Linked DNA regions of Homo sapiens. The protein of the gene in region 1 purifies or fractionates together with the protein of each later gene. This does not show direct contact. Each region holds a gene or a part of one and is shown in the gene's direction. Other genes may lie near its edges.

The links.
Region 2: the proteins of FOXI2 (region 1) and SATB2 purify together in Homo sapiens (affinity purification with mass spectrometry; one large-scale study listed by BioGRID and IntAct). This does not show direct contact.
Region 3: the proteins of FOXI2 (region 1) and NSDHL purify together in Homo sapiens (affinity purification with mass spectrometry; one large-scale study listed by BioGRID and IntAct). This does not show direct contact.
Region 4: the proteins of FOXI2 (region 1) and PDS5A purify together in Homo sapiens (affinity purification with mass spectrometry; one large-scale study listed by BioGRID and IntAct). This does not show direct contact.
Region 5: the proteins of FOXI2 (region 1) and SMPD4 purify together in Homo sapiens (affinity purification with mass spectrometry; one large-scale study listed by BioGRID and IntAct). This does not show direct contact.
Region 6: the proteins of FOXI2 (region 1) and HK2 purify together in Homo sapiens (affinity purification with mass spectrometry; one large-scale study listed by BioGRID and IntAct). This does not show direct contact.
Region 7: the proteins of FOXI2 (region 1) and DLX5 purify together in Homo sapiens (affinity purification with mass spectrometry; one large-scale study listed by BioGRID and IntAct). This does not show direct contact.

The regions. Positions count from the first base shown.
Region 1 is NC_000010.11:127,735,792-127,740,409, forward strand, and holds the start of FOXI2 (forkhead box protein I2), read left to right. Parts: upstream 1-1,393; 5' UTR 1,394-1,482; coding exon 1,483-1,993; intron 1,994-2,728; coding exon 2,729-3,174; 3' UTR 3,175-4,618. UniProt on the Homo sapiens protein: Possible transcriptional activator.
Region 2 is NC_000002.12:199,268,759-199,273,175, reverse strand, and holds the end of SATB2 (DNA-binding protein SATB2), read left to right. Parts: intron 1-503; coding exon 504-965; 3' UTR 966-3,671; downstream 3,672-4,417. UniProt on the Homo sapiens protein: Binds to DNA, at nuclear matrix- or scaffold-associated regions. Thought to recognize the sugar-phosphate structure of double-stranded DNA.
Region 3 is NC_000023.11:152,855,017-152,858,998, forward strand, and holds part of NSDHL (sterol-4-alpha-carboxylate 3-dehydrogenase, decarboxylating), read left to right. Parts: intron 1-3,753; coding exon 3,754-3,900; intron 3,901-3,982. UniProt on the Homo sapiens protein: Catalyzes the NAD(P)(+)-dependent oxidative decarboxylation of the C4 methyl groups of 4-alpha-carboxysterols in post-squalene cholesterol biosynthesis. Also plays a role in the regulation of the endocytic trafficking of EGFR.
Region 4 is NC_000004.12:39,821,980-39,825,236, reverse strand, and holds the end of PDS5A (sister chromatid cohesion protein PDS5 homolog A), read left to right. Parts: 3' UTR 1-2,374; downstream 2,375-3,257. UniProt on the Homo sapiens protein: Probable regulator of sister chromatid cohesion in mitosis which may stabilize cohesin complex association with chromatin. May couple sister chromatid cohesion during mitosis to DNA replication.
Region 5 is NC_000002.12:130,164,310-130,168,291, reverse strand, and holds part of SMPD4 (sphingomyelin phosphodiesterase 4), read left to right. Parts: intron 1-701; coding exon 702-834; intron 835-3,846; coding exon 3,847-3,918; intron 3,919-3,982. UniProt on the Homo sapiens protein: Catalyzes the hydrolysis of membrane sphingomyelin to form phosphorylcholine and ceramide. It has a relevant role in the homeostasis of membrane sphingolipids, thereby influencing membrane integrity, and endoplasmic reticulum organization and function.
Region 6 is NC_000002.12:74,872,062-74,876,043, forward strand, and holds part of HK2 (hexokinase-2), read left to right. Parts: intron 1-238; coding exon 239-358; intron 359-1,214; coding exon 1,215-1,310; intron 1,311-1,782; coding exon 1,783-1,882; intron 1,883-2,204; coding exon 2,205-2,388; intron 2,389-3,982. UniProt on the Homo sapiens protein: Catalyzes the phosphorylation of hexose, such as D-glucose and D-fructose, to hexose 6-phosphate (D-glucose 6-phosphate and D-fructose 6-phosphate, respectively).
Region 7 is NC_000007.14:97,021,793-97,026,259, reverse strand, and holds the start of DLX5 (homeobox protein DLX-5), read left to right. Parts: upstream 1-1,428; 5' UTR 1,429-1,636; coding exon 1,637-1,991; intron 1,992-3,623; exon of another isoform or gene 3,624-3,799; intron 3,800-3,890; coding exon 3,891-4,075; intron 4,076-4,467. UniProt on the Homo sapiens protein: Transcriptional factor involved in bone development. Acts as an immediate early BMP-responsive transcriptional activator essential for osteoblast differentiation.

The DNA.
Region 1 (4,618 bases):
TTCCATAAATTAGTTGTTTTACATAAAATTTGGAACTACGATCTGGGAGGCCGAGGGGCTGCACCACCAGTAAGTCGCTGACTCAAATGGGCCCTTTAATCCCCAAACCCAAACTCTTTCCTCGATCGAACCGCTGGCCTCAACCTACAAGCCTCCTCCACCGCCAAAAGTCGGGAAGGGTTGGTCCTTTTGTTTTACAAATGAATTAAAATTAGATCCACAGGCCCGCGTAACGCTGGGGAATACCCAGGGCGAGGCCAGCTTCCAGGAGGTCAGCGCCAACACCGCCGGCAGGAATCTGGGGGGATGGGGAGGTCTCCTCATCTCTGAGCCTTGAGCACCAGGCCTGAATTTTCGCCTCTTTCGCACAGGTGCCCGACTCGGAGTCCGGGAGGCGGGCCCTCTTTCCAGGTACCCAGCCCAGCGTCAGCCTGGGTCCATCCTCCGCCACCCCACAGCGCGGGGAGCAGGGGAGGCCGAAAGCCGGGCAGCTTGGGGGGCCGGGATAACCCGGGCTGCAGCAACCCCGGGCGGCAGCAGGACTGGAGAGCTGGTGTCGGACGCACTGCAGAGACGTCCCTGTTTTCGGCGCGTCCTCCGACACCCAGCAGAGAGCTTGGCGCTCTCCGCTCTGCGCGCCCGAGGTCACAGCGCGGAGAAACCTGGCGGGGCCCCGGACTCCCCGGCTTGGGAAAAGCGATGACTGCCCTGAACTGCTGGGGCGTTCGAAATTTCCAGGGTCCCGACCCTCCGTGGGGTACGCGCGACTTCGGCGCAGATGTCAGTCCGCTGCCTTCCGGGTTGAGGGAGCGAGGACTCCAGACGACCCCAGGGCCGCTGTCCAGGCCCAGCCCCGCGTTCTCCACCTCGCCACCTCGCTCTGCGGCTCCAGCCTGGAGATCTACGGACTTCATTGCGATCTCTTGCGCAGTGTAGTCGCCCTCTATCCCTAGCCCCGAGTCCCGGGTAACCCAGGGGCCCCGGCGAGGCGAGTTTCTTTGGGGCGAGATGTCCCGAGCCGAGCAAAGGGGCCGCGCATTGGACGGGGCTCCCAAGCCACAGCCCTGGGGGCCTTGAGGAGTCGTGGTACGGTCCAGGGCAGTCGGGGCTGCGGGGCCCGTGAAGCCAGACGAGGCTACGGACTTAGGGTCCCTGCAACCAAGACCGCGAGCGACTGTGGACTCGGGACGGATCGCACAAAGGAGGAAGGGGGAATCAGAGGGGCGTCCGGTCCAGGACGTGTCAGGCCTGGGCGGGGCGGAAAACTGACACCAGGGCGAGGACAAGGATTTCGCTCCTCCAGGGCTGCCAGGGGAGGGGCTCGCCACCGTCACTCTCCATGGGCTCTGGCCCCGACGGTGTTTAAAGGGCGGAGGGCTGGGCCGGGCTGGTCGCACCCGGGCGCTGCTGGCGGCCAAGCTGGATGGGTCGCCAGTGAGTTTCGGTGCGGCACCGCTGGCCCAGGCCCGGGCGCGGCTGGACATGGCCACCTACTGCGACGACCTGGGCCCCTCCTCGGCCCCGCCCGGCCAGGCCCAGGCCACCGCGCACCCCCCGGGCTATGAGCCAGGGGATCTGGGCGCGGTGGGCGGGGGCCCCCTCCTGTGGGTGAACGCGCCAGCGCTCAGCCCCAAGTCCTACGCTTCGGGTCCCGGGCCTGCGCCGCCCTACGCGGCCCCGAGCTACGGGGCTCCCGGCCCGCTCCTCGGCGCCCCGGGCGGCCTGGCGGGCGCCGACCTCGCCTGGCTGAGCCTCTCCGGCCAGCAGGAGCTGCTGAGGCTGGTGCGGCCGCCCTACTCCTACTCGGCGCTCATCGCCATGGCCATCCAGAGCGCGCCGCTGCGGAAGCTGACGCTCAGCCAGATCTACCAGTACGTGGCTGGTAACTTCCCTTTCTACAAGCGCAGCAAGGCGGGCTGGCAGAACTCCATCCGCCACAACCTGTCGCTCAACGACTGCTTCAAGAAGGTGCCCCGCGACGAGGACGACCCAGGTAACAGCGGCGCGCCGGCTCGCTCCGTCCAGGACTCCCCATCTTCCCGCCGGGCCGCGGGCACTCCGGGGGTGGGAGCACCTTAGACAACCTAATTTCTCCCTGCGCGGTTGGGGATACCCGGGGAGGAGGGAGAAGGGGAAGAAGTGCTTGGGCATGGACAGGTTCTCAGACAGCGGCTGAGCCCACCACAGGCCCGCGTTTACAGTGCGGCGGTCCCGGGGCTCTCAATCTCTGTGCGCTCCTTCGGAGGAAGAAGCGGGAGAGCCAGCAAGCTGGGTGACCTTGGGAGTGACTCAACTTCCCTGGGCCTCAGTGCCCTACCTGGTAAAATGGGGAAGACAGCGCCTACCCCAAGGATGGGCAAAACAAATAGGATGCCCGTTTGGAAAGCTCTGGAGCCTACCTGGGGGCCTGGCGTGGTCTGCGCTGTCCTTGGCAGAGCGGCTGGCGGAGTCCCACCATTAGCATCTCGCAGGCCTTCCTTCACCTTAACGGGGCTCGGCCTTTCCCAGGGCTCCCTTCCTCCTCCTTTCTGGATTGTCACTTTCTTCCCAGTCCTGCTGTGGAGGCCCATCGGGTACAGAGTGCCCGTCAAGGGTGGAATGGGGGCGAGGACTCAGACCCTCTGTAAGGGCCAGCAGGGGATCTTTCTGAAGCTGACCTCCTCGCTGGCTCACACCACGGCCCGTCAAAGCTCGAACCTTCTGAACTGGGCTGTTTCTTCTTCTGCAGGTAAAGGCAATTACTGGACCCTGGACCCCAACTGCGAGAAGATGTTTGACAACGGGAACTTCCGAAGGAAGAGGAAGAGGAGAGCTGAAGCCAGCGCGGCCGTGCGCTCGGGAGCCAGGAGCGTGGGAGGGGCCGAGGCGCCAGCGCTGGAGCCCCCGAGCGCGGCTTGCCTGGACCTGCAGGCCTCGCCCTCTCCATCCGCACCCGAGGCCGCCACCTGCTTCTCCGGTTTCGCTTCTGCTATGAGCGCTCTGGCTGGCGGCCTTGGCACCTTCCCCGGGGGCCTGGCGGGCGACTTTTCTTTCGGGAGGCGGCCACCGACAGTCGCCACCCACGCTCCCCAGACCCTTAACCCCTCCCCTGGCTTCGCCCCTGGCCACCAGACCGCGGCCGCCGGCTTCCGCCTCAGTCACCTCCTCTACAGCCGGGAAGGGACCGAAGTTTGAAGGGAGGCTGGAGGCTAGCCGGGTGCGGGTCCAGAGGTGCTGAGCTCAGGCCTCCGGTTTCCCCTGGTGACAGCCCCACGTGTTGGCGTTGAAGGCCTTGGTGCCCTGGGAGGAAGCGCAGAGCCGGGGGCGGCTCGGCCAGCAGGGAGCTGGGCTGAGCGGCTCTTGGGCTTTGGGGTGGGTGGCCCTTCTGCTGTGCACCCCTCACCCAGGCGACCTTCGGAACCTCCCTGCTCTGCCTCTAAGTCCAGCCGCCCTGGGCGTCTAGAACCTGTGCTCTCGAGGGATTTGCCTTGAAGGGGCGGCGGGTCGGCCCTCAGCTCCAGCGTTTTCCAAGGAGGCTGGCTGACTCCAAAGAGCCTTAGAGCAGATGGGAAGAAGGTGGGCTGCCAGAGCGGCCCAGGTGGTGGGGGCCCTTTCCACCTCCACCCAGCTTGGCCCACCTGGCTCAGGGCCTTCCCTTCTGCTTCAGGGAAGCTGCCGCAGGGGCTGGGGGACAGAGCTCAGGAGCAGCTGCAGTGGGCTCCAGGTGGGCCAGGAGCCTGCAGTGAGGGGATCTGAGACAGTTGGCATTGGGTCCTGTGTAAGGAAGGTCTTGCTAATGGTTGGAACTGCTGGTGGTGGGAGGGAGAAGCACTGCGTGGGCAGAAAGCGCCCTTGGGATACCAGCTCCCTTCCCTGTCACTCAGCCCTGGTCCTTGATGACCCCCCTCTAGGACAAGGCAACTCCCCAGGGCCCCGCCACCACTGACCACAGGAGCGGTGCCCAGCACCCAGGAGTTCCCCAAGGGTCCAGGTTTGTGCCACCCACACCCACACTCACACCCACACTCACACCCACACTCACACCCACACCCACACCCACACCCACACTCACACTCACACTCACACCCACACTCACACCCACACTCACACCCACACCCACACCCACACTCACACACACTCACACCCACACCCACACTCACACCCACACACACTCACACCCACACACACCCACACTCATACTCACACTCACACCCACACTCACACCACACCCACACTCACACTGACACCCACACTCACACCCACACTCACACTGACACCCACACTCACACCCACACTCATACTCACACTCACACCCACACTCACACTCACACCCACACTCACACCACACTCACACCCACACACACCCACACTCATACTCACACCCACACCCACACTCATACTCACACACCCACACCCACACCCACACCCACACCCACACCCACACCCACACTCACACAGGCTCATGGAAGGCCACACTTGTTTTGGTCTCTTTCCCCTCCAAACCCACAGTTTGAGCCAAAGCTGTGCGTGTGTTCAGAGCTCCTGAACAGCAGCCTCCTGTGTAAATTGAACCCTGCCCCACCCAGTTCCTTCTTAGGGATGGTATCTTTGTGAAGGACAAGGAGCCCCCAGTCACTGG
Region 2 (4,417 bases), on another chromosome or scaffold:
CAACATCTCTAGGAGGTTGGTTTCTTATCCTACTTTTATGGATGATGAAATAGAGGCTGAAAGATATTAAGTGATTTGCCCAGGGTTACTCAGCTAAGTGGAAGAATATGAACTTGAAGCCATGATGATAGAGTCCATACTTTCCCCTTTGTGCCCAATTTCTTTGTCGTTAGCCTTCAGAGAGGTGGCATATCTTGGTGGTTACAGGTATAGAAGACTCTGAAGCCAGGTTGCCTAAAGTGAGATGACCTTAGGCAATAAATGACTTGACTTTGCATCTCAGAATATAAATGATGGCAAATACTACTGTTATGAACCTCCTGTTTTGTAGGTGAGATACTAAATGTCCAGAAATGCTTTTAAGCTTTCCAAAGACCTGACTTTACAAATGACTATAGCTTACCTCCAGTGCTAGATAGATAACACATATTTCAGAGGGCTGATGGTTTTGGAAAGGTAAAATCATGAGTCCAGTGTTCATTTTTTTCTCTCTTAATTATCAGGTACTTCATAGACAGCAGTCTCAGCCAGCCAAGGAGAGTTCCCCTCCCAGAGAAGAAGCGCCTCCCCCACCTCCTCCGACTGAAGACAGTTGTGCCAAAAAGCCCCGGTCTCGCACAAAGATCTCCTTAGAAGCCCTGGGGATCCTCCAAAGCTTTATTCATGATGTAGGCCTGTACCCAGACCAGGAAGCCATCCACACTCTTTCGGCTCAGCTGGATCTCCCCAAACACACCATCATCAAGTTCTTCCAGAACCAGCGGTACCACGTGAAGCACCACGGGAAGCTGAAAGAGCACCTGGGCTCCGCGGTGGACGTGGCTGAATATAAGGACGAGGAGCTGCTGACCGAGTCAGAGGAGAACGACAGCGAGGAAGGCTCCGAGGAGATGTACAAAGTGGAGGCTGAGGAGGAAAATGCTGACAAAAGCAAGGCAGCACCTGCCGAAATTGACCAGAGATAATGTGAACTTCTACTAGGCAAAGCAATACATCGGTCCAAGGATTTTCTGCTTTCATTTCTTTAAAAGTTTTTTGTTAGTTTGTTTTTTGTTTTTGTTTTTGGGTTTTTTTGGCTTTATTTTTGTCTTTTTATGTCTGTTTTGTTTTTCTTACCCTTTTGGACATTTCTTTGTTGCACAGGATACACCTATAGACTGAATAAGTTCAGTATTTCCGAATCAGACATCGCCTTGGCAAAGACACTAAAGCGTTACACTTTATCCCGTCTCTATGACTGGATCATAGTCATTATAATCACAGGAGACTCTGCCTTCATTATCCTTGCACTTAACGGAAGTTACATCAGGCAAGTACCAGGATGAAAAGAACTATGAAATAAATGAAGGAAGCTACAAGTGTGTGTGTATATGTATATGTATATATCTCTATATTTACATATATATATTAAAATTGCATGGGACAGAGACTTTGCAATCCGAAAGAATAGACTGTGAAATGAGTTCTTAAAGAAAAGACTTGTTTATGTATTAAAAAAACCACTTCACAGTGAGTCGCTTTGGCTTTTTGATAAACTGCGGCCTGCTCTCAGGGTGGGGTGACTATTTTTGAATTCCTATTTATTTTTTGTGTTTGTCCCTGATTTTTTTTTTTTAATTCTATGGCTTCCTATCTGGCAGCTTAATGGGTAATTTTTGAGGTATGTATTTAACAAAATAAACGACACTGCCGAAAAAAAAAAAAGTGAAGTGAAAACAATCAGGGCACATTAAAATGATACAAGTCAAATAAATCTTAAAGACACAATGCACACTTAAAATGACTCAATAAAATGACTTGCTACGTTCCGTTATTCAATTTGTCATTACTGTAGTGAACAGATGCATTTCTGTGGAATTCCAAATAAGTAAAACTGAAATTCAGTGCAGAGAAAACTTTGTCCACTAGTGCAAGTCTTGATCAAATGACATTTTGACATTGGACATATGGAATTCATAGTATGAGCCACATTTTGTTGTGAAATTTATTTACCTGCTTGTGGCTTCAAATCTGAAAATTAATAAGCCTGCTCGTTTAAAAGTTGTTTGTTGTTGCTGTTTTTTTGTCTTTTTGTTTTTTACTAGAAAATAGTTCAGTGTAATATTAAGTTAGAAAAGAAGTTGCTGCCCAGTTAAAGGGGCTCCCTCTCAAATAAATCTCCATCCTTCCCTCTCCCAAAAGACATTTCTGATTTCTGCTTCACTTTGGGCTTCCTCTTCTTCGTACACATTCCATCTACCTAATCAAACATTTTCAGTCCCTGATCTCTCCTGTCCCTTTTCCTGGGATGACAGCCCTAACAAGAACTGTTTTTGAATCGTTGTGCAGCTCCAGGCAATAGAGTATGTGAAGCGATTTCAGTAGAATCACTTACTCATCCTAAAAGAAAACATTATCCCAGTTACCTACATCGCAATTACCTTATGTAAAGCAGAACTAATGCTGACTGGATGTTTAATGGGATGAGCATTAAAGCTGCAATCTACTATAGTACTCCAGATCTCTTTCGGCTTCCTATGAGAAACACCAGAAGCATTACTTTCCACTTCTACTTACAGTAATTGCAAGAGGAGACCTCACATTCAGGACTGGCCTAGTGAACGTAATCCATGCTTTAAACTGGCCATTAAACAGTCCCACATGGTTGGATTTTTTTTTTTTTTTTGAGTTGTGCTTTCACAAAACCTTGTCAAAGACCTCATGCAATATCACTTTGAAAGTTATTTTCTGTTTACTACACAAACATTGTAATATAACTGTTAATACTATTTATATATTTGAAAGGTATAAAAGGTAGGAGTTAAAAAAAAAACCTCTATGTGTAGATATTAACTCAGAACTTACAATATACAGGGAGAAGACATGTTGCAATACAAGCTAATTCTAGCTGCTCAGTAACCTCTGGAGTTTTTAAAGGGACATTTTCCTGTACTTTTTCAAATAATGATGTTTAAAAATTATCTTGACATAAGCGTCATATACCTTTGCAAAAGGATGGTTGTTTGCAGTTAGCCCTGGCCCCATCCTTCCTATTTCTGTAGTATGCTGCAGCTTTAATCAGAAAGTCCATGGTTGCTGCTTCCTGATCTCCGAGTTACTCTTTCCAAATTGTCTTCTTACACTGTTGCTGAAGGTCACTCTGTACACGTAATGGAAACTGATTTTGCCAAGCTCTTACAAGGTGGTTCATCTATCGATGGCATCCGCATTTGGTATCTTTTACACTTCAACCAAAAATTTATTAGGTATTTTTCAATGCTAAGTCTTGCCTTTTATTTTTTAATTTCACTGCCAAGTTTGCAGTGGTTCTAAGTGAATCTGTGGGCATTTTAGCCTGTGGTCTTGCCAGATCTTTGCGAATTACAATGCATATATGTCTATTTATTCAATATCTGTCATATAATATCTATTTGGAAGAAGAAACTTTCTCTTGTAGTGCCTCTTGACAAAGCACAATTTCCCGCCTTTTTTTTTTTTTGTGAAATGAAAAAAACAAATTGTGTTTTATTGCGGTATCAACAATGTGAATAAGGATTAACATATTGTAAATGTTCTTTTTTCCATGTAAATCAACTATCTTTGTTATCACTAAGTGATAATTAATTTTTAACTTATGTGCATTGTTAGGCTGTTAGAATTTTTTGGTTGTTAAAATAAACGCATTCAATAAATATGACTTTGTTTGTCAGTTATTTTACTGGGCATTATCTGCTTTCCCACTTAATTTTTCATGCAGAGAGAGACCTGGTGAGTCTTAGGAAAATTTGTACCCTTATTTTAGAAACAAGACAGTGGTACCTGCAATTACAGATATATGAGTCCTGTACAGTGCATGGATTTAATAGCACATGTGAATGTATGTGTGTCTCTGTGTGTATATAAACACATGCATGCTCACTTCCTTTATCCAATCTTTTGTCATATACAAACAAAACTCAAATGTATAAAGATATATTTATAGGCTGCTGTTTTATTTTTCTAGTGAATATTTTCTGTTTATAATTAAAAAACCACAAATGACTGCGTGTCAGGAAACTTTTGGAGCACATATGTCCATGGTTAATGGACATAATAAAAGTCTTTTATATTTAGAGCTGGGGTACCATAATGTGTGCATGGAGGAATGCTGAAAGGATTGATGTATCTGAGAAATGTGTGAAAATGATTTTTTAGAAAGTACTTACAATGGAAAAAACTGCTCAAAAGACTAATGTTAATAAGGAAAGAGCAAGTGCTTCGCTTCAGAACTGGCAAAGAAAAAGTAAATTAAAAAGTGATTTTGTTTTCTTTTGATATTGTAAATGTTTTTCCTGTTTATTTTTTTTTCCATTTTTCTGCATTTGATTGACATACAGATGTAACTTCTCTTTCTTCCTCGGTTTCCCTTACCTTTTTTAACAGCCCATGAACCATGTAG
Region 3 (3,982 bases), on another chromosome or scaffold:
CGGAGTCTTGCGCTGTCGCCCAGGCTGTAGTGCAGTGGCGTGATCTTGACTCACTGCAAACTCTACCTCCTGGGTTCAAGCAATTCTCCTGCCTCAGCCTCCCGAGTAGCTGGGATTACAGGCGCCCACCACCACCCATGACTAATTTTTATATTCTTAGTAGAGACAGGGTTTCACCATGTTGGCCAGGCTAGTCTTGAACTCCTGACCTCAAGTGATCCACCCGCCTCGGCCTCCCAAAGTGCTCGGATTACAGGCATGAGCCACCGTTGCCACCGCGCCCGGCCCATGACACTTTTAAAGTCACCTCGGTCTTGTGCATCTTTTGTTGCTGACAGGAAGTCTACTCTCAAGCCGGTCGTTGTTCGTTTGTAGGTTGTCTGGCTTTCCCTCTTATGGTTTTTAGGATTTTATTTTTTATCATTTATAGTCTATAGAGAATATATCTGGGCCTGAGTTTTAGTTTTGATTTTAAATCTTAACACCTGGTAGGCCTGTGCAATCTGAAGATGAATGTCTTTCCTCATTTCTGGAAAATTCTTCAAAGATTAACTCTACCCCTTTTCTCTCTTTTCTCTCTTTCTAGAAGCCGTGCTGGACATATGGTGGTCTTTCATTGTATCATCTGTCTCTTATCCTCTCTTTCTTGCATTCCTTCTCTTTCTCTTTTTGTACTATTTCATAGGAGATTTCCTCCTCCCTGCCTCTGCTCATGGCCAATCGTGTTTCACCTATATTCCTCCTCAGATTATGTTGAAGTCAATCCTAGACATCATATCATTTTATCTGCAAATATTTCAGTATTTGTCTCTAAAAGATAAGGATTATTTTTAAAAACATTGACAGTAGTTCCTTAGTATCTAGCCAGCGTTCAGATATCCCTGAATGTCTTATAAATGTTTTTGTATTATTGTTTTTCCAAATAAGGAACCAAGCAAGATCAAGACTATGGATTTGGTTGAAATATTTAGCTCTCTTTTAATTTACGATTCCCTTCATTTTTTTAAACTTCAGTCTATTTATTGAATAACTGATGTTTAGTAGAAACCATGTTTATGGTGCTGTAGTATTTCCCACAGTCTGGGTTTTGCCGATTACATCCCCATTGCGTTTAACATGCCCTTCTGTCCTCCAGTATTTTCTGTATACTGGTAGATCTGGGATGGCGCTGTCCATTAAGGCAGCCATTAGCCACGTGCAACTATTGGGCACTTAAAATGTGGCAAGTCAGAATTGAGAAGCACTGTAAGTGTGAAGTCCACACCAGATTTCAAAAACTACCTACAGAAAAAAGGAATGTAACTGTCTCATTAAAGTTAATTTCACCTTTTTCTTTTTACTTTTTAATGTCATTACTATAAACTTTAAAGTCACTGTGACTTTTATTATGTTTCTACTGGACTAAAGACTTGATCGGACTCTGGTTCAGTTTTTCCCTCTGGGGTATTATTACTTCTGATACTCCAATAGTAATAAGCATGCCTAGTGCTCAGATTTGGGTTTCTATATACCATTTCCCATAAAAAGAACTAGGGCTTCTTGGGAAAATTGCTCATTCTAGGACCCTAGGGCAAGGGCAGTACAAAATGAGTCTGGGACATTTTCTTAGCACAAAATGAATGGGGACCTGCCAAGAAGATACAAGAGCCAACTTGAAGGGCTTCCCCTGGCCAAATTTGGGACATTTTGAGCATTTTGAGCCTCTCAAAACATAACAGTAGTGGATGACAATGCATTTTGATTTCAAAAAGAATCCGTGGGCTGGGTGCAGGGCTAGCGCCTGCAATGCCAGCACTTTGGGAGGCCAAGACAGGTGGATCACCTGAGGTCAGAAGTTCGAGACCAGCCTTGCCAACATGGTGAAACCCCATCTCTACTAAAATACAAAAAAATTAGCCGGGCATGGTGGCATACGCCTGTAATCCCAGCTACTCGGGAGAATCGCTTGAGCCCGGGAGGCAGAGGTTGCAGTGAGCTGAGATCATGCCACTGCACTCCAGCCTTGCCGACAGAGCGAGACAATGTCTCAAAAAAATAAAATAAAAAAGAATCCATGGGTCCATAGAAATACTGAAAATAACAATTGGGGTCAGGGAGAAGGGGAAGCTCTACAGAGGAATGCCAACTAATAAATGTAAAGGCCATGAATTAAAAGGCTAGACTTAGAATGTCACCATTTTATACCCAGTACATTGATTATTGTTCCAGGCAAGGACTATCAATAAATGCTGAGGTTAATTGGTAGAATTAACATGCTACAGATTACTTATCAATTGCAAAGGAAAAGGTACCTTTTTGATGGCCGGAATCTGGCAGCCATCATCATCACCACGTGCTCCAACTTAATATCACCAAAAGTGGGACAGACTTGCACCTCCTGAGGTAATTCCCTGAGAAGGACACACCACCACTGATGTGGTATTCTTGCCAAAACCATTAAGCCTGAATCTAATCTTGAGGAAACAGACTAATCCAAACTGAAGGACAGTCTATAAAATAACCCAAACCCTTGAAAAATGGCAGCATTAAAATAAGACAGAAAAGACGGGAATTTGTCTCAGATTAAAAGAGATGGAAGAGACCTGAGGACTAAATACTACATGTCATGCGCAATTGGATCCTGGACCCCAAAACAAAAGGCTATAAAAGACATTACTGGGACAATTGGGGGAATTTGAATATAGACTAATTATTGGATAAGAACATCATATCTGTTAAGTTTCTTGAGTGTGATCATTGTTTTATGGTTATTTAGGAGAATGCTTTTGTTCTTAGGAGATACCTGTGAAGCGTTTAGAGGCAGCATGATGTCTGCAACTTACTTGACTGGTTTCAAAAAAAAAATCATGTGATTGTATGTAGAGAGAGGAAATTGTGGCAAAATATTAATTGGCACATAATTGTCATAATTGTCTTTTGGTGACAAACATGAATCATACTTAGATCATATTACTTAATTAAGGTTTGACAAAATGATGACATGCTATTAGTCTTCATTTAGTAGCTCCAGTCTTTATACCTTAATGCAGAATAAATATTTGATTCTTTCCCTTTATTTACCTGAATTTTTATTCTTGCTTGTGGTCAAGCTGTCCCTTCTTTGCCCAGTGGGAACCTCTTCAGGTTGGCCCTTGAGTGCTTTTAACGTGACCCCGGTAGTCTTAGCTAGCTAGCATCCTCACTCTCTGGTACAAGGTGTGCCTGGTTCCTCTTGTGTGTTTCCTGTCCCAGATCTGCAATCAGCCATTTCTCTCAGGAGCTCTTGTTCCTTTTAGCAGTAAATCAAACAGACCTGTTTTAAAAATCCCTTTCAGGTTGCTGTATTGTGTCAAGTTTCACAGGAAGGAATATGCCTGTGTATTGGCTATTTACTGTCTTTAATGGTGTGGAACTTTTTCATGTGATTCATAATTTCTATCTGAGTTCACCTTCCTGGGGAGTTTTACCTCCTAGGTGCCTGCTCTGAACCACCCAAAAGGATGTTGCCTCTGTGTGGATCCCACAGGCTTCTCATGCCCCAAACCCCTTTTGACTGGGGACTAGTTAGTGGGGAGAAGGTGATTAAAGGGACAACTTGGTTTCCATCCCATGTACTTCGGTATCATTGATTCTTTTATGAGAATGTATTTCCATATTGATTATAGAATTATAAGACAAGGAACCTACAAGCCACAGGTTGGAGGGTGAAAACATGAGAATGCCATTGACCTGTCAAAGCAGGAATGATTATTTTGTCTTTCTTTGCTTTTCCAGGATCTGTACCCAGCTCTGAAAGGTGTAAACACAGTTTTCCACTGTGCGTCACCCCCACCATCCAGTAACAACAAGGAGCTCTTTTATAGAGTGAATTACATTGGCACCAAGAATGTCATTGAAACTTGCAAAGAGGCTGGGGTTCAGGTAAGGGGAAGGCTGGAGTGAGTGCTGTCAGGAGCACGTGATGGCCCTTTCTAAGGGTGCAAGGCCGTAGTTCTTGCAGTCT
Region 4 (3,257 bases), on another chromosome or scaffold:
TTTTCTTACGAAAAGTCAATAATTAAGCAAATTGCTTAACACTTGGTTCCAGTTCCTGCCTATCTGGAGTTTAAATGCGTAATACACCATTAATTTCCACGCTGCAGTTTTTATTTTAAAGAAAGTAACAAGATGTCTTTACACTGACACTGAAAATTCATCCATTTTAGAGCCAGGAATTCCCATGTTACACAGGAAAAAATAGAAGTCTACTGAATTAATTTTTTAAAAGAAAAGAGATCAGATTAAATATTTCTTTGTTTTTCCTTTTGGAAACTTTTATGTATAATTCTTTCTGCCTGCCTACTTTTCTGCAAAAATGAGATGTACAGATTTCGGTTCCCTGCTATGAAAAGTGATGTGGTAGCAATTTTATAAATGTTGCTTTCTGATTTTTATCAGAGTGAGAAAATTAAAATTATTGATTTGCAAGTAGTAAACAGTTCATATTTTGATTTCCCCTCATTTTAGTTTAATATAATTTGCAATAAATGTACATATTGTTGTTTGTTTCATAAAGCATATCACTTTAAAATGGTTTTTACTCCTGTGATTATGTTGGAATATTTGGAATTTTAAAGGAGTAAAGACTGTCCAGCATTTGGTTTTATAATGTTTGTCACCAGATTTTTATTAATGTAAAAAAAATCAATTTTTAAAAAATAGTTGGACTTTGGCAGCTTTTAAGGAAAGTTGGAGGTGTTTTAGGATTGCTATCAATTTTCAGCATTGTGCTATTTGGAAATAAGTGTTTTGCTTTTGTCTGATGGTCTGGGCTCATTTTTATGTTTATTTTAGAAAACTGTTGCATCAATATATTATGTTTCTTGGCATTGTTCAGCATAGGTAATGTGTGCACTTTATGTGTACACATAATCATATTTAAGTTTTTTGCATAAAATAAATGCTTCTAGATGTCATGGCAGTCTTTTTAATCTTTTTATCATATGCTTTCTTGTGAATTTTTTCATGTTAAAGAGCTAAAGTCATAACATGATTACAGTCAACTCTCCATTATCTATATAAAATAGTGACTAAGCCTCAGGTTTTTAATTTTGTGATAACAAAATAACGAAGGCATGTAAGACCTGATTCTGGAGGAACATGAAATTTGTCTTTTCTCATGTCCAGAGTTCTATCCTGCCCCCACTGTCCACTGTAGGGTCATCCGCAAAGCCCTAGCAGAATGTGCTCACTCCATTTCCTTACACGTTTCTAGCATGGGTCAGAGGAAACAACATTTGTGTTATAACTTCGTCTTGATAGGCTGTAGTGTACATGGGATGTAAAACAAACAAGTGTATCAAAGGTGGATGATTCTGTTAGAGTGAAGTTTGAGAGTAAATGTCACTTACGTTTCTCATAGATAATCAAGAGTTGGCTGTGTATTGACTGAAAGATGGGTAATTATTTTAAATATGCATTTACACACATTTAGGTATCAGAAGATGCTTAGGGAACAATGGATACCAATGATAGAAAATGATACCTTTACAGGGGCAGAAAAATCCCCACTCTTCCTTATTGCCTCTTCAGAACCCTTTAGAAAGTATAAAATATTGCCTCCAACATGCTGAAAAAGAGTATCTATGCATAAGTATCAGAGAAGTCCCTCAAGCAATCAGTAGGTGTGTTCTATTTAGAGAGAGTTTAAAGTTCTCTTAGCATCAGACAACTTGATTCCTAAGGTTTCCAGTGTGTCACCAACAAAAAGTGCATTGATAGGGACCTTTGTCTCTTCCTCCCTTTGATTAATTGCCCGGCATCACAGTTTACTAGATTACCAAGTGTTACATCATATTAAATAAAATGTAGCAGAACCATCTGCATCAATATATTCCTGTTTAGATTTTTGCAGGAGAGAAGTTAAAAGGATTTGCTCCTTGTATGATGTAAGTGGCCCACCCCAATTTTGTAACATGATGCAAGTGTCTGGCACTAAGGGAAGCAAGAGTAGGGTTGTGGAAAGACCAAGCTGATGGGGAGGGACTTGTTTACGGGAATTTTTTTAGTTTTCCTTTTCAAAGGAAAACATTAAAATCCCTTAGGAATTTGGTATTCACATCTCAGAGAACTACAACACAAAAGTGCAGACTTATATTTGAGAATTAATGTTAACCCTTTGTGTCTAGTTTGAAGCTTCTTGTATTTGTCTAAAACAACAAGCCAGAATTTTGTATCTCCTTTGATAAAAAGTGTGTATAATGTAAAGTAGTTTTGCATATTCTTGTGCTGCACATGGGCTGAATTTTTAAATTTTTTTTAAAAACTTGAAGCAGAACCTTGTAATTTGTGTAAATGACAAGTGTAAAATCCTACCATAAAATGCTAAAAATATGCACTGTTTCAAATAAAACCAAGAAATGCAGCATTATATAGTAGTGTGGAGCCCTGAATATTCATGTACCCCTGGTATGTCACAAGTTGATAAAATGTCTCTGCATATTTTCTGTTGAGATGCTGGAGTCTGAATATCCTAATTAGAAATCAAAAGCCACCTTCAAACTTCCTGGCTGGGTACTCTGAGGTAGCTTACAGTGGCTAAGGAAGAACATAGTGGATGATAAATTCTGAGGCACATTCGGAATTTCCAAACGAGGTTTGTTTTAGGGGGTGGCTTTTTTTTTGAAATGAGATCTTACCCTGTTGCCCAGGCTGGAGTGCAATGACATGATCATGGCTCACTGTAGCAATCCTCCTGCCCCAGGCTCCTAGAAAAGTGCTGGGATTACAGGCCTGAGCCACCAGACCTGGCCAAGAAGTTATTTTTTTAACCTAAGAATTTAATAGCAGCCTTTGATTCATATTAGTCTATGGTTCATCCATTCATTGCAAGTTCTGCACTCACATATTTAGTTCCATAACAAATTCAAGAGAGCAAGCAGATTACATAAATGTATCTGGAGTAAGAGGTGACCAGAACGAGAGGTAAGAAAGTCTATCATGGCTGGGCGCAGTGAGTCACACCTTTAATCCCAGCACTTTGGGAGGGTGGCCGAGGCAGGTAGGTCACTTGACCTAAAGAGTTCAAGACTGGCCTGGGCAACATGGTGAACCCTGTCTCTACCGAAAATACAAAAATCAGCCGAGTGTGGTGGTGCACACCTGTAGTCCCAGTTACTCAGGAGACTGAGGTGGGAGAATCCGTTGAGCCTGGGAGTCGTCGGTTGCAGTGAGCCAAGATCACACCACTGCACTCTAGCCTGGGCAACAGAGCAAAACTGTTTCAAAAATAAATAGGCCAGGCGTGGTGGCTC
Region 5 (3,982 bases), on another chromosome or scaffold:
TCACCACACCTGGCTAATTTTTGTATTTTTTTGTGGAGACAGGGTTTTGCCATGTTGCCCAGGCTGGGAATTTCTTAATTTTTTAGAAACAGGGTCTTGCTCTGTCACCCCAGGGTGGAGTGAAGTTGGTACGATCATTTGTCACTATAGCCTCAACTCGTGGGCCCAGGCCATTCTCCCTCCTCAGCCTTCTAAGTAGCTAGGACTACAGGCACATGCCACCAGGCCCAGCTGTTTTATGTTTCAATGTTTTTGTGGAGATAGGTTCTCATTTTGTTGCCCAGGCTGATCTCAAATGCCTGGCCTCAAGAAATCCTCCTGCCTTGGTCTCCCAAGGTGCTGGTGTGAGCCCCCATGCTCACAGGTGTGAACCCCCATGCCCAACCTCACTGTTGATTCTTGACCAAATCAGCTATTAATAGGGCGGTTACTAAATGGTGGTTCTCTAACTTCATCCCTCCTTCATTGATTTGTGGGTCAATGGTCACTCTGTGGTAAGGAAGACTTCTCTCTTTGCTATTTATTTATTCAGGTATATCAGTGTGGATCAGGGGGCTGGGGGGAGGTGTGCATTGTGCTATTGAACAAGTTGTAATCTGTCCCTGCTCTCGTTGATTTTGATATCCAGATTGCCCCTGTTACAGCGGGAGCGAGTTACAGCGGGAGCCTGTAACTCGGGCCTGTTTCTGTGTCTCCCTCAGGACACCAGCCATACCCTTTGCTTCCTATGGCCTCCACCACACTAGCCTCCTAAAGCGACACATCTCTCATCAGACGTCTGTGAATGCAGACCCCGCCTCCCACGAGATCTGGAGGTCAGAAACTCTGCTCCAGGTGAGAGTTGAGCTGGTCAAAAGAAACTGTTCAGCCAGCTGGGCATGGTGGCTCGTGCCTATAATCCCCAGCACTTTGCGAGGCCTAGGTGGGCAGATGACCTGAGGTCAGGAGTTTGGGACCAACCTGGCCAGCATGGTGAAACCACGTCTCTACTAAAAACACAAAAATTAGTTGGGCGTGGTGGCAGGCGCCTGTAATCCCAGCTACTCGGGAGGCTGAGGCGGGAGAATCGCTTGAACCCAGGAGGTGGAGGCTGCAGTAAGCTGAGATCGTGCCATTGCACTCCAGCCTGGGTGACAGAACTAGACTCCATCTCAAAAAAAAAAAAAGAAAAAGAAAAGAAACTGTTGCCACCTTCCACTATGTGGGGCAGAGTCCCAGAGGCGGCCCCTCAGCCCGGGGCTGATTCTAAATTGTTGATATTTTCCTGCTGTGACATTTAGAAAACATGAAAGTAAATCTGCCCACCCTTTTAACTTGAATGTCATTGATGGCGTTTTTCATCCCAGGATCCCCTGTCCATGGAAGTTGTTTCGTTTTGCCTGTGGTGATATAATTGTTGCAGAGTCTTTTGGTTTCCATGACACTGAATGGTGAGGGGTCTGTGCAGCCTCCACAGGCCTTCCATTGATTCAGGGGATCCAAGTAGTAGGTGACAGATTTCCTTGTCTGCCCAGAGGGGCTCCAGCCTGTCAGGATGGTATGGGCTGGCTCACTTCCTGAGTGCTGGCCAACTCCCAGGTCCTGGCTGTGTCTTCTAGGCACACAGAGAGATTCAGCAGGTGCTGCTTCTGACGCTGGATCCTGGGGCTGACTTGGTAGCCACAGCCTTGCTTTACAGCCTGGCATGTAGATAAGATAGGATTCTATCTCCCATCTTATATGTAACTCCTAGTATTTGGGGTGCTGCACTTTTTGAAGCCTCCATACCATTTCACAGCATCCTCGCAGGGTGGAATGGTAAGAACCGTTGCCCCTGTTCACAGAGGGGACCATGATGCCCAGATGGCTCTTGGCTGTGTGGACCGTAGGCTGTGCTGGCCATGAAGAGGGCAGAAGATCATGACACAGCGCTTATAGGGAAGAACTGGAAGGTTCTGCTGTTCCCTGGGCCAAAGCATTTTTTTTTTTTTTTTTTTTTTTTTTGAGATGGAGTCTCCCTCTGTTGTCCAGGCTGGAGTGCAGTGGCTCAATCTTGGCTCTGTGCAACCTTCACCTCTCAGGTTCAGGTGATTCTCCCGCCTCAGCCCCCCGAGTAGCTAGGATTACAGGTGCCCACTGCCATGCTCAGCTAATTTTTGCATTTTTAGTAGAGATGGGGTTTCACCATGTCTCGAACTCCTGACATCAAGTGATCCATTTGCTTTGGCCTCCCAAAGTGTTGGGATTACAGGCGTGAGCCACCGTGCCCGGCCCTTTTTGTTTTTTTAACTAAGAAAAAAATTTAATTATAAGATATATATAACATGAAACTTATTGTCTTAACTATTTCCAAGTGTACAGTCAGTAGTGTTGAATACAGTCATGTTGTTGTGCATGCAATCTCCAGAATGCTTTTCATCTTGCAAAACTGAAACTGAACCAGCCCGGGCGCAGGGGCCTCACACCTCTAATCTTAGTGCGTTGGGAGGCCCAGCAGGAAAGGATTGCTCAAGGCCGGGAGTTCAAGACCAGCCTGGCCAGCATAGTGAGACCCCATCTCTTCTAATGAAAAACAAGGAAATCAAACCATTAAACAATTCCCCACCCAGCACCTGGCAACCACTATTCTGCTCTCTGTTTCTATGGAGTTGACTCCTAGATCTCATACCCAGAGTATGCGTAGCACATAGTACTTATTTGTGTGTGAGTAGCATGCTTCACTTAGCATAATGGACTAAAGATTAATCCATGTTACAGCATGTGTCAGAATTTCCTTGCTTTTTAGGGCTGAATAGTGTTCCATTGTGTGGATGTACCACATTGTGTTTATTCATTCATCTCTCAGTAGACACTTGAGTTGCTGGGTTTTTTTTTTGTTTTTTTTTTGAGACCGAGTTTTGTTCTTGTTGCCCAGGTTGGAGTGGAGTGGCACGATTTTGGCTTACCACAACCTCTGCCTGTTGGGTTCAAGCGATTCTCCTGCCTCAGCCTCCTGAGTAGCTGAGCTGGAATTACAGGCATGCGCCACCACGCCCGGCTAATTTTGTATTTTTAGTAGAGACACTGTTTCTCCATGTTGGGTCAGGCTGGTCTCGAACTCCTGACCTCAGGTGATCCACCTGCCTTGGCCTCCCAAAGTGTTGGGATTACAGGTGTGAGCCACTGTGCCCAGCCCTTTTTTTTTTTTTTTTTTTTTTTTTTTTTAAATCAGAGTCTGTCTTTGTTGCCAGGCTAGAGTGCAGTGGTGCAGTCTTGGCTCACTGCAGTCTCAAACTCCTGGGCACAAGCAATCCTCCCACCTCAGACTCCCAAGTCGCTGGGATTATAGGTGTGATGCCTCACCACACCCAGCTAATTTTTGTATTTTTTGTAGAGACAGATTTTCATTATGTTGGCCAGGCTGGTCTGGAACTCCTGGCCTCAGGTAATCCCACCCACCTCGGCCTCCCAAAGTGCTGGGATGACAGGGTTGAGCCACCATGCCTGTTGGTTGCCTTTTTACTCTATCTATAGTATTTTTTCATGCTCAAGAGTGTTGATTTTGATGAAGTCTAGTTGTCTATTTTTTTTCCTTTTGTTGCCTGTGCTTTGGGCATCATATCTAATTAATCATTGCCAAATCTAGTGTTATGAAGTTTTCTCCCATGTTTTCTTCTAAGAGTGTATGGTTTTAGTGCTTATCCTCAGGTCGCTTACCCATTTTGAGTTATTTTTTGGTGATGGTGTGAAGGAAGGGCCCAGCTTCACTGTTCTGCACATGGGTATTCTGTGTTCCCAGCTCTGCTTGTTGGAGACACTGTCCTTTCCCCACTGGATGGTCTGACACCATTGTCAAGAATGGTTTGACTAGCTAATGCTTTTTTGCAGGTTTTTGTTGAAATGTGGCTTCATCACTATTCCTTGGAGATGTATCAAAAAATGCAGTCCCCTCATGCCAAGGTATGTTTTCAGTTTTTCTTCCCACCTCCTGCTTCTGACCCTGCTCAGCCTGCTGCTTCTTATC
Region 6 (3,982 bases), on another chromosome or scaffold:
TTTAGTGGGCAAAAACTAATGTTAAGCCTTTATGTATTGACTCATGTACTCCTTTTCATAACTCCATGAGGACAGGTCCAGTTATAATTCCCTTTTTGTAGGTGAGCAAATGAAGATATCAGAGGAGATATGGGTTTTGCACACATTCAGCTAGTTACGTGCTGAGCCTGAAGTGCATGCCCTTAATCTCTATGCTGTTCGACCTCTCTGCTCACCACCCTGTGTCATGTATCCTTAGCTGTTTGACCACATTGCCGAATGCCTGGCTAACTTCATGGATAAGCTACAAATCAAAGACAAGAAGCTCCCACTGGGTTTTACCTTCTCGTTCCCCTGCCACCAGACTAAACTAGACGAGGTAAGATGGGCTCCTCAGACACTTGTTGCTTCACTCTTGGGGCTGGGAGGGCTGAGAGGGACTTCTGAGCCACCTGCTGTGGTGGTGGTGGTAGCACTGGAGGATTGTGGAGATGAAGTTCTGCCTTTCTGGGTGACTGTGTATGTCGATGGGGGGGCTGGTGAAGAAATCTGGGGGGTTGGGAGTGCCCTTTATCACCCTCTCTCCCACACACATTGCACAGTATCCTTATCCCCTCCACAGAAACAGGAATGAGAAATCAGGAACTCCCCAGTCTAAAGTGTTATGATAAAGACCCTTGGAAGAAAGATACTTGGAGAGTTAATGATGTAAGGACACAAGTACAGTCATGTATTGCATAACAATGGGGATATGTTCTGAGAAATGCTTTATTAGGTGATTTCACTTATGTATAAACATCATAGAGTGCACTTACACAAACCTAGATGGTATAGACTACTACACACCTAGGCTGTATGGGACAGCCTGTTAACTCCTAGGCCACAAATCTGTATAGCATGTTACTGTACTGAATGCTATAGGCAATTGTAACACAGTGATATCTGTGTATCTAACTAGGCAATAGGAACTTTTCAGCTCTATTATAATCTTGTTACCACCGCAGTATACACAATCTGTCACTGACTGAAACATTGTTATGCGGCACATGACTGTGTCTTATAGTGCCAGTTGTCCTGAGTTTCTTTTTCCTAGGCTAGCCAGGAAGTAACACACAAATTCAATCATGACTTTACCCCAGTGGCAGAGGTCTCTGCTAATGACGGAGGTTTGAGGGGTGTGGTGTGAGTTTCAGTTTTAGTGGGAAATCAATATTCACTTCTTGGTCCCTTTCCAGAGTTTCCTGGTCTCATGGACCAAGGGATTCAAGTCCAGTGGAGTGGAAGGCAGAGACGTTGTGGCTCTGATCCGGAAGGCCATCCAGAGGAGAGGGGTGAGTGGGGTGGCAGGAGCTTGGGGTCTGTGGGCTTTTCTGGGTCCACCCTGAAGACTCCCTGAGTGTCCTTGACTCATCATTGTTTGCTTACGTGGAGCTTAAGGAGAGTTCTCTTTTCCCTGACACATGTACTCAATAATTTTGTATGCGATCTGCTGCTTTGGGGGTTTTTAGATTATCAAATGGATAAATAATCTTAGCCTTGGCACAAGAAAAGCTCTTTAGTTCTTAACCTGAAGAAGACTTGAATGTGATTTCCAAGTAAGAAAGTTGGAATGATGTTGACATGGGAGTGGAATGGCTCAGAGAGAGAATGAATTAAAAGTCTTATCACAGGAGGAGTTATGGGGAGGGAGGGGGGAGAGAGAGAGAAGGAGGAGGAGGAGGAGGAGGAGTGATATATAGCTGGTGTTAGGAAAGTCGCCCTCTGTGATGATGAAGGTCAGAGCCCTCCCATTTGTCTCCACAGGACTTTGATATCGACATTGTGGCTGTGGTGAATGACACAGTTGGGACCATGATGACCTGTGGTTATGATGACCACAACTGTGAGATTGGTCTCATTGTGGGTGAGTGAACACCGTGCATGAAGGGCCCGTGCTGGCCAAGGGATGGGGGTGTGGGCTGGAAAGGGAGAAGGGGCCCATGGGCTGGGTGTTCCTTTGTAGTTCATATTAGAAGATAATGGTCCAGTCACTTTGGAGAGCCGAGCAGGGACTCATGGAGTTGGGGGTGGCAGAAGATTAGACCATGTATTGTGATGCCCCCAGAGTCTGCAGTGAGAAATCCCAGCCATCCTGGCCGGGCAGTCTCGGGACAGTAGTATAAGAGGGAAGAGGGGTGGGAAGGGGCCGGAGCAGGCGTGTGCATAGCCGTCCCTTGTTTTGGCAGGCACGGGCAGCAACGCCTGCTACATGGAAGAGATGCGCCACATCGACATGGTGGAAGGCGATGAGGGGCGGATGTGTATCAATATGGAGTGGGGGGCCTTCGGGGACGATGGCTCGCTCAACGACATTCGCACTGAGTTTGACCAGGAGATTGACATGGGCTCACTGAACCCGGGAAAGCAACTGTGAGTAGGCCCTTCCTGTGCGAGTGGGCTTGGCGGGGGCCTGGAGCTGAGTCTGGGGCTGGTCGGGGCCAGGGGGTTGTTTCTTTACAGTCTTACATCCCCAAAGCTTGCCAAGGTGGCCACTGGTCATAGGAATGTCTGTGACTATAAATTGCTGAGAGGATCTAAAACAGAGAGCAAGCGGATATACCAGATTATAGCTAATAATGTGTTTCCTTCACAGGAGTCATTTTGGAAGGTTCTATTCTGAGTGTAAGTGGGTGGCCCTGCTCTTTCTTTCCACCTTCTATTTGTAAATTGTCCATGGGAACTGTGAGCCACCTAAGGAAAGTTGTGTTGAGGTGGCCAAGATTGGGGTCTCTGAAAGCTCCTTTCATAGCTCCAACTCCATCACCACCCAGAGGACAGGCTGACAGCTGGCTGCTCATTGCTGCTCCCTGGGGTCCCAGGGCCTCCTGCTGCAGCTGCAGGCAGACCCATGGCCCCTGGAGACATTGGCTGAGGAGCTTCCTTGGCCTCCTTCACTTGGACCTTGGCCCAACTATGTCCTGGGATGGATTGGAGGAGGGGCGTCTAGCATTTTGGATCCTGAATATTGTATTCTCCAGCCTGGCCTGCCTTTGTTTTTAGTTGCTTTTATCTCTTACAAAACCTTATTTCACCCTCACAAACATTTGCCAAATGTGCGTGTGAAAGATCTTGAAACAGGGATTGCTTCAAGGTCTGAAGCAGTTGCAAAATATTTTGAGCAATACAGATCATCTCTGGTCTTGTGACTGTTGTAGAAAAGCTTTTCGTGCAGATCTCTACTTGGACAGGAAAATTGAACCCTATAAATCAAGTCAGTGGTGGGTAACCCAGGAGAGTCCTTGCTTTCGTTTTTTTTTTTTTTTTTTTGAGACAGAGTCTCTCTCTGTTGCCCAGGCTGGTGTGCAATGGCGCAATCTTGGCTCACCGCAATCTCTGCCTCCCGGGTTCAAGCGATTCTCCTACCTCAGCTTCCTGAGTAGCTGGGATTACAGGCGCCTGCCACCACGCCCAGCTAATTTTTGTATTTTTATTAGAGACAGGGTTTCACCATGCTGGCCAGACTGGTCTCGAACTCCCGACCTCAGGCGGTCCGCCCTCCTCGGCCTCCCAAAGTGCTGGGATTACAGGCGTGAGCCACCGCGCCCGGCCTGAGAGTCCTTGCTTTGTCAAAGCATGGTTTATTTATCTAAGTCACAAGCTTGTTTCACATGTTGAAATGAGTCCTTTACTTGAAATTTCTGAGGATCATACTGGTTGTGTCTGCCATGGCTGATGAGAGGTTTATGAGCTGAAAAGTCACTCAGTGCCTGCCTCCATGAATGAGGCACACCCAAGTCATTCCGAGGAACTAAAGGCCCTTTCAAATGTCAAAAGACAAATTTGCCAGCCAGACCATGACAGCACACCCCCGGCTTATCCTTTGACACCCACCAAATTGTCATCCATGGTAGCCCTGAAGTCACTACAGACAATTTTTGTCCCCTCTAATATATTTCCAAGTAAGTATCTTCCAAATGTTGACTGGAACAAAGTGTTTTTAAAAACTAGAATAAAAACTTAGCAA
Region 7 (4,467 bases), on another chromosome or scaffold:
TCTTCGGTAGGAGGGAAAACGGAGGGGAGGCCAGATAACCCTAGATAGCCTGTGGAACTCCCAGATTGCCGGTCTTGGACCCCGTAAAGGAAGATGTAGGAAGGCCCCAAATCAGGATCTAGTCCGCGGAGTTGCCTATTTGAGGGGAGTAACAATGGGGATTGGGAGAGACTTTTATGCTGAATTTCTAAACTCCCAGCTGAATCACGACTAGAACAAGGATAGCACCTCCTGAAGAGCAAAGTTTAGATCTCGTGTATCAACTGAATGATTCTTGAATCCTTTCTTCCCTTGCATACGAGCTAAGTAGGATGTCTTTGCAGCAGGAAATAAAGGGGAGAGGGTACAGAAACCCGGGTCTGGGAAATGGAGAGACTGGGCCACATTCATGGAGCCAGGAGGGGGAAATCAATGAGCATCATCTGACTTTGCAAAGGCTTTGATCCTTGTCTCCTTCCCCACTTCCGAGACTTTCCCATTCTTTCCTGGAGGTATGGCAGGTTATACATGGATCCATTCACCTTTGCGGGAGTCTTTGGCCACTGAACATAGTTAAAGAGCCTTTATTCCAATGTCTTGAAAATAGATGAAAATATTAAACAGAAGTGGAGCTGTTTGGCTCTTTTTGCAAGCCAGCAACGAGGATTTGGGCTTCCTTAAGTTATATGTGTTTAAGACAGTAATTTTTAAAAGTCATTATAAGGACTTTGGGCTGCAGGAACTCTCCCTGCCATTCACCGGCTTAATGGACATTGTGCCTTCTTGGGCATTCCTGTCCAGCCCGCGTCCGGGAGATACTCATCTCCTGCAAAGGAAGTTGCCTCTTTCCCCAAAGAGCAAATTTTCAAAACATGTAAGTTACAACTTGCTTCCCAACACTCCACTAAAAAAAAAAAAAATGCTGTTTCCCTTCCTTCTTGCCTCCATCCTACATCCCCCCGCTCCCCACTCCCTGCACCTTGACTCCCTATTTCAGTATCAGTGTTTAATTCTACACTCGCCTTTGGTGCAGCCCACGGGGGCGGGGTAGTGGGAAGCAAGGAAAGATGGTCGCCCACCTCATTCCCAAAACATGTGCACTTTTGAGGCTTCTGATTGGAACACATTGTCCCCAGACATCACAGAGCCTTGTGCTGTGGCTTCTGCGATGTCTTTGGAATTTACTAAAAACAGATAGACTAAGACCCCTCCCCACTCCACAACAAGCAAAAACACACACAAGCGCGCGGGCGCGCACACACACAAACACACACACCCCCTCAGTACCCCCCACCCCCTTTTTAAGCAATGCTTTGTTGTGCTAAAACTAGTTGGACGAGTTAGGGTGTTACTGTTGCTCCCGAGGCCCTGGCCAATAGAACCAGATCCACCCCGCTGTGCGTAAGCGCGCAATTAAGGATTTAACCAAGGCTGTGCTGCGCCTCAGCCAGCAGTCAGCCGGCCGGAGACAGAGACTTCACGACTCCCAGTCTCCTCCTCGCCGCGGCCGCCGCCTCCTCCTTCTCTCCTCCTCCTCTTCCTCCTCCTCCCTCGCTCCCACAGCCATGTCTGCTTAGACCAGAGCAGCCCCACAGCCAACTAGGGCAGCTGCCGCCGCCACAACAGCAAGGACAGCCGCTGCCGCCGCCCGTGAGCGATGACAGGAGTGTTTGACAGAAGGGTCCCCAGCATCCGATCCGGCGACTTCCAAGCTCCGTTCCAGACGTCCGCAGCTATGCACCATCCGTCTCAGGAATCGCCAACTTTGCCCGAGTCTTCAGCTACCGATTCTGACTACTACAGCCCTACGGGGGGAGCCCCGCACGGCTACTGCTCTCCTACCTCGGCTTCCTATGGCAAAGCTCTCAACCCCTACCAGTATCAGTATCACGGCGTGAACGGCTCCGCCGGGAGCTACCCAGCCAAAGCTTATGCCGACTATAGCTACGCTAGCTCCTACCACCAGTACGGCGGCGCCTACAACCGCGTCCCAAGCGCCACCAACCAGCCAGGTACATGGACAGGGGGAAGGCTGGGCAGATACAGGGCGACTAGGACGCTGGGGGCGCGAGATGGGGTGGTAGATTGGGGGTCACAGCGGTTCACGGCAGTGGGGGCGCACGCGGCAGAAGGGAGTAGGACTCAGACCCTCCAACAAAGAGAGTTTCTCGGGCCAGCATTTTAGGGATTTTTAGTAGGAGAGCCCTGTGGAGGTTCGAACTAGCGTCTCTCCCCTCCGGCACCTTCCAAGGCCCTTCAGTCGCTGAATTCCCAGCTTGCCCGGCCAGGAAGCCGGCTAGGCTGGAAAGGGGATAGGGGTGGAGAGAAGAAAGAATCAAGCAGCTCCTGGCGTTTGCGTAACAAAGAGAAGGTTACTTGGGAATTTTGGTAAGCGTGCTGGGTTGGTGCGAGTGGGAATAGAAGGCTGCCTCAAAAACTCAGTCAGGATTAGTTTGAGAGCCGCCACAAGCTAGCACGGTGCGGGTGCCCTGAGCACGCTGGGTGGGGGTGGGGGGGTTAAGGAGTTGTAGCCAGCCAGAGAAGAGCGCGCCGAGAGTTTTGCGGTTTATCCAGGCATTTCCAAAAACAAAAAGCCATTTAAAGGTGGAGGAGGGTTGCTGAGGGGTCACGTTGTAGGATAGATTTTTTTTTCTGTCTCCATAGGCGCCCACAATTTGTCTTTCCGTCCTCCTTTTTCGTCCGCTTTGAAACTTACTTAGAGAGTTTAAGAGGGTTAGTGAGCTTGGGCGGTAAGAGAAAGGCATGAGGCTCGGCGGAGAGGTTTTATTGGTAAGGTTTGATCTCTTCCCACCAGCACATTAATAATCCTGCTAATATTAGCATCCCCTACTCTGGCAGAATTGAGACCACAGCCCTCATCCTCCACACTTCTCCCTGGAACTTGACACACACACACACACACACACACACACACACACACACCCTGGAGAGGTTCTCCGTCAGTTCCAGAGGGGTGGTAGTTTTGAGGAAGGGGAGTTGTAGCCCCAGGGCAGGTTTGTACAACACGCGTTTGGCAATCCCTCCCCCTCCCGCCCAAACCCATACTCATGACAGTGAGAATCTCATCCTGACCTGCCGCCCCTTTCCTACGAAAACACCCCACCACCGGTTCCTTCTCAGTGTGTGACTCTTGCTGAACTTTAAAAGAGAGCCCCGGGTTGAGGTGTCTACGTTTCTTTCACTCTCTCTGTATTCCGTGCATAAGTGGAAGATTTCTTTTTTTTTTTTTTTTTTTTGCCAAGAACATATTAAGTCTATTTGTAAAAGAAACCAGACACATCTGTGCCCTCGCAGATCTGCAGCGAGATTATGGGGGTTGCATAATCGACCCTCTGTCTGCGGCGGCCCCGACCGCTTGCTGCTGAAGTGAAGGAGCAGTTTGCTTGTGGGTCTTTGAACTTTGGAGACCTCGGTTAGCGTCTTCCCTGCCCAAGAGTCTGGCTTCTGCGGGCGCCCGAACAGACGCCGACAGAAGTAGGGTCACGGCCCAGGGCCACCTCCTTGAAGCCTGGGGAGGGGCTGGTGTTCTTGAAGCCTGGGGAGGGGCGGAAACGCGGAGGAGCACAGGGTGGGCGTAAAAACAAGTCCGGGAGAAGAAGCAACGACCGCAAGAGCTGAATCCCAGATGCCAAGGAGAAAGCAGTGTTGTAGGAAGCGCTTTGCACAAACTATCTGAATGAACAGAGTAGGAATTAATCAGAGGCTATCCCGCTTTTCCATATTTGGGGTAGGTGCATATTTATCGCGGTCCTGAAAAGCAAAGGTGGTGGTGATATGGGCAAAGAATGAAGACTGAGTGGTAAGAAACTCTAGGACTCTATTTGAGGCCCTTCCGCAAAAGGGGCATTGTCTGGTGACAAGCTTTAACTGAGTCTGTTTTGATTATTTAGAGAAAGAAGTGACCGAGCCCGAGGTGAGAATGGTGAATGGCAAACCAAAGAAAGTTCGTAAACCCAGGACTATTTATTCCAGCTTTCAGCTGGCCGCATTACAGAGAAGGTTTCAGAAGACTCAGTACCTCGCCTTGCCGGAACGCGCCGAGCTGGCCGCCTCGCTGGGATTGACACAAACACAGGTAAATACGGCGCTGCCATGCACTAGACCTGCCTGAGCTGCACGTCTGGTTGGGTCGCGCGGTTCAGTCTCGATGGGACTGGAGCTGTTTTGACAGTACCCGTGAGAAACTAACAGACCCAAAGACATCAGCCCCTATGCTTTAACTCGGTGAGTCAGGCCTTGAGACGGTGGGGATGGTATTCATCAGCGGTCTGGAGATACCTCCCACTAACCGCGCCCCCCGCCCCCACCCCGTAGCGGGCCTCCGGAGCTGTGGGGCCAATTTCGCGGGTTGAAAGCAAGCGGAGGGTTATTTCTAGGGCGGCCTAGGCAGCCCAGAGCAGCTATCTGGTTTTCTTAACAATGTAGAGCCTCCTCGGGGGTGAGCAAGGCCTGGTGTTCTCGCGGTGG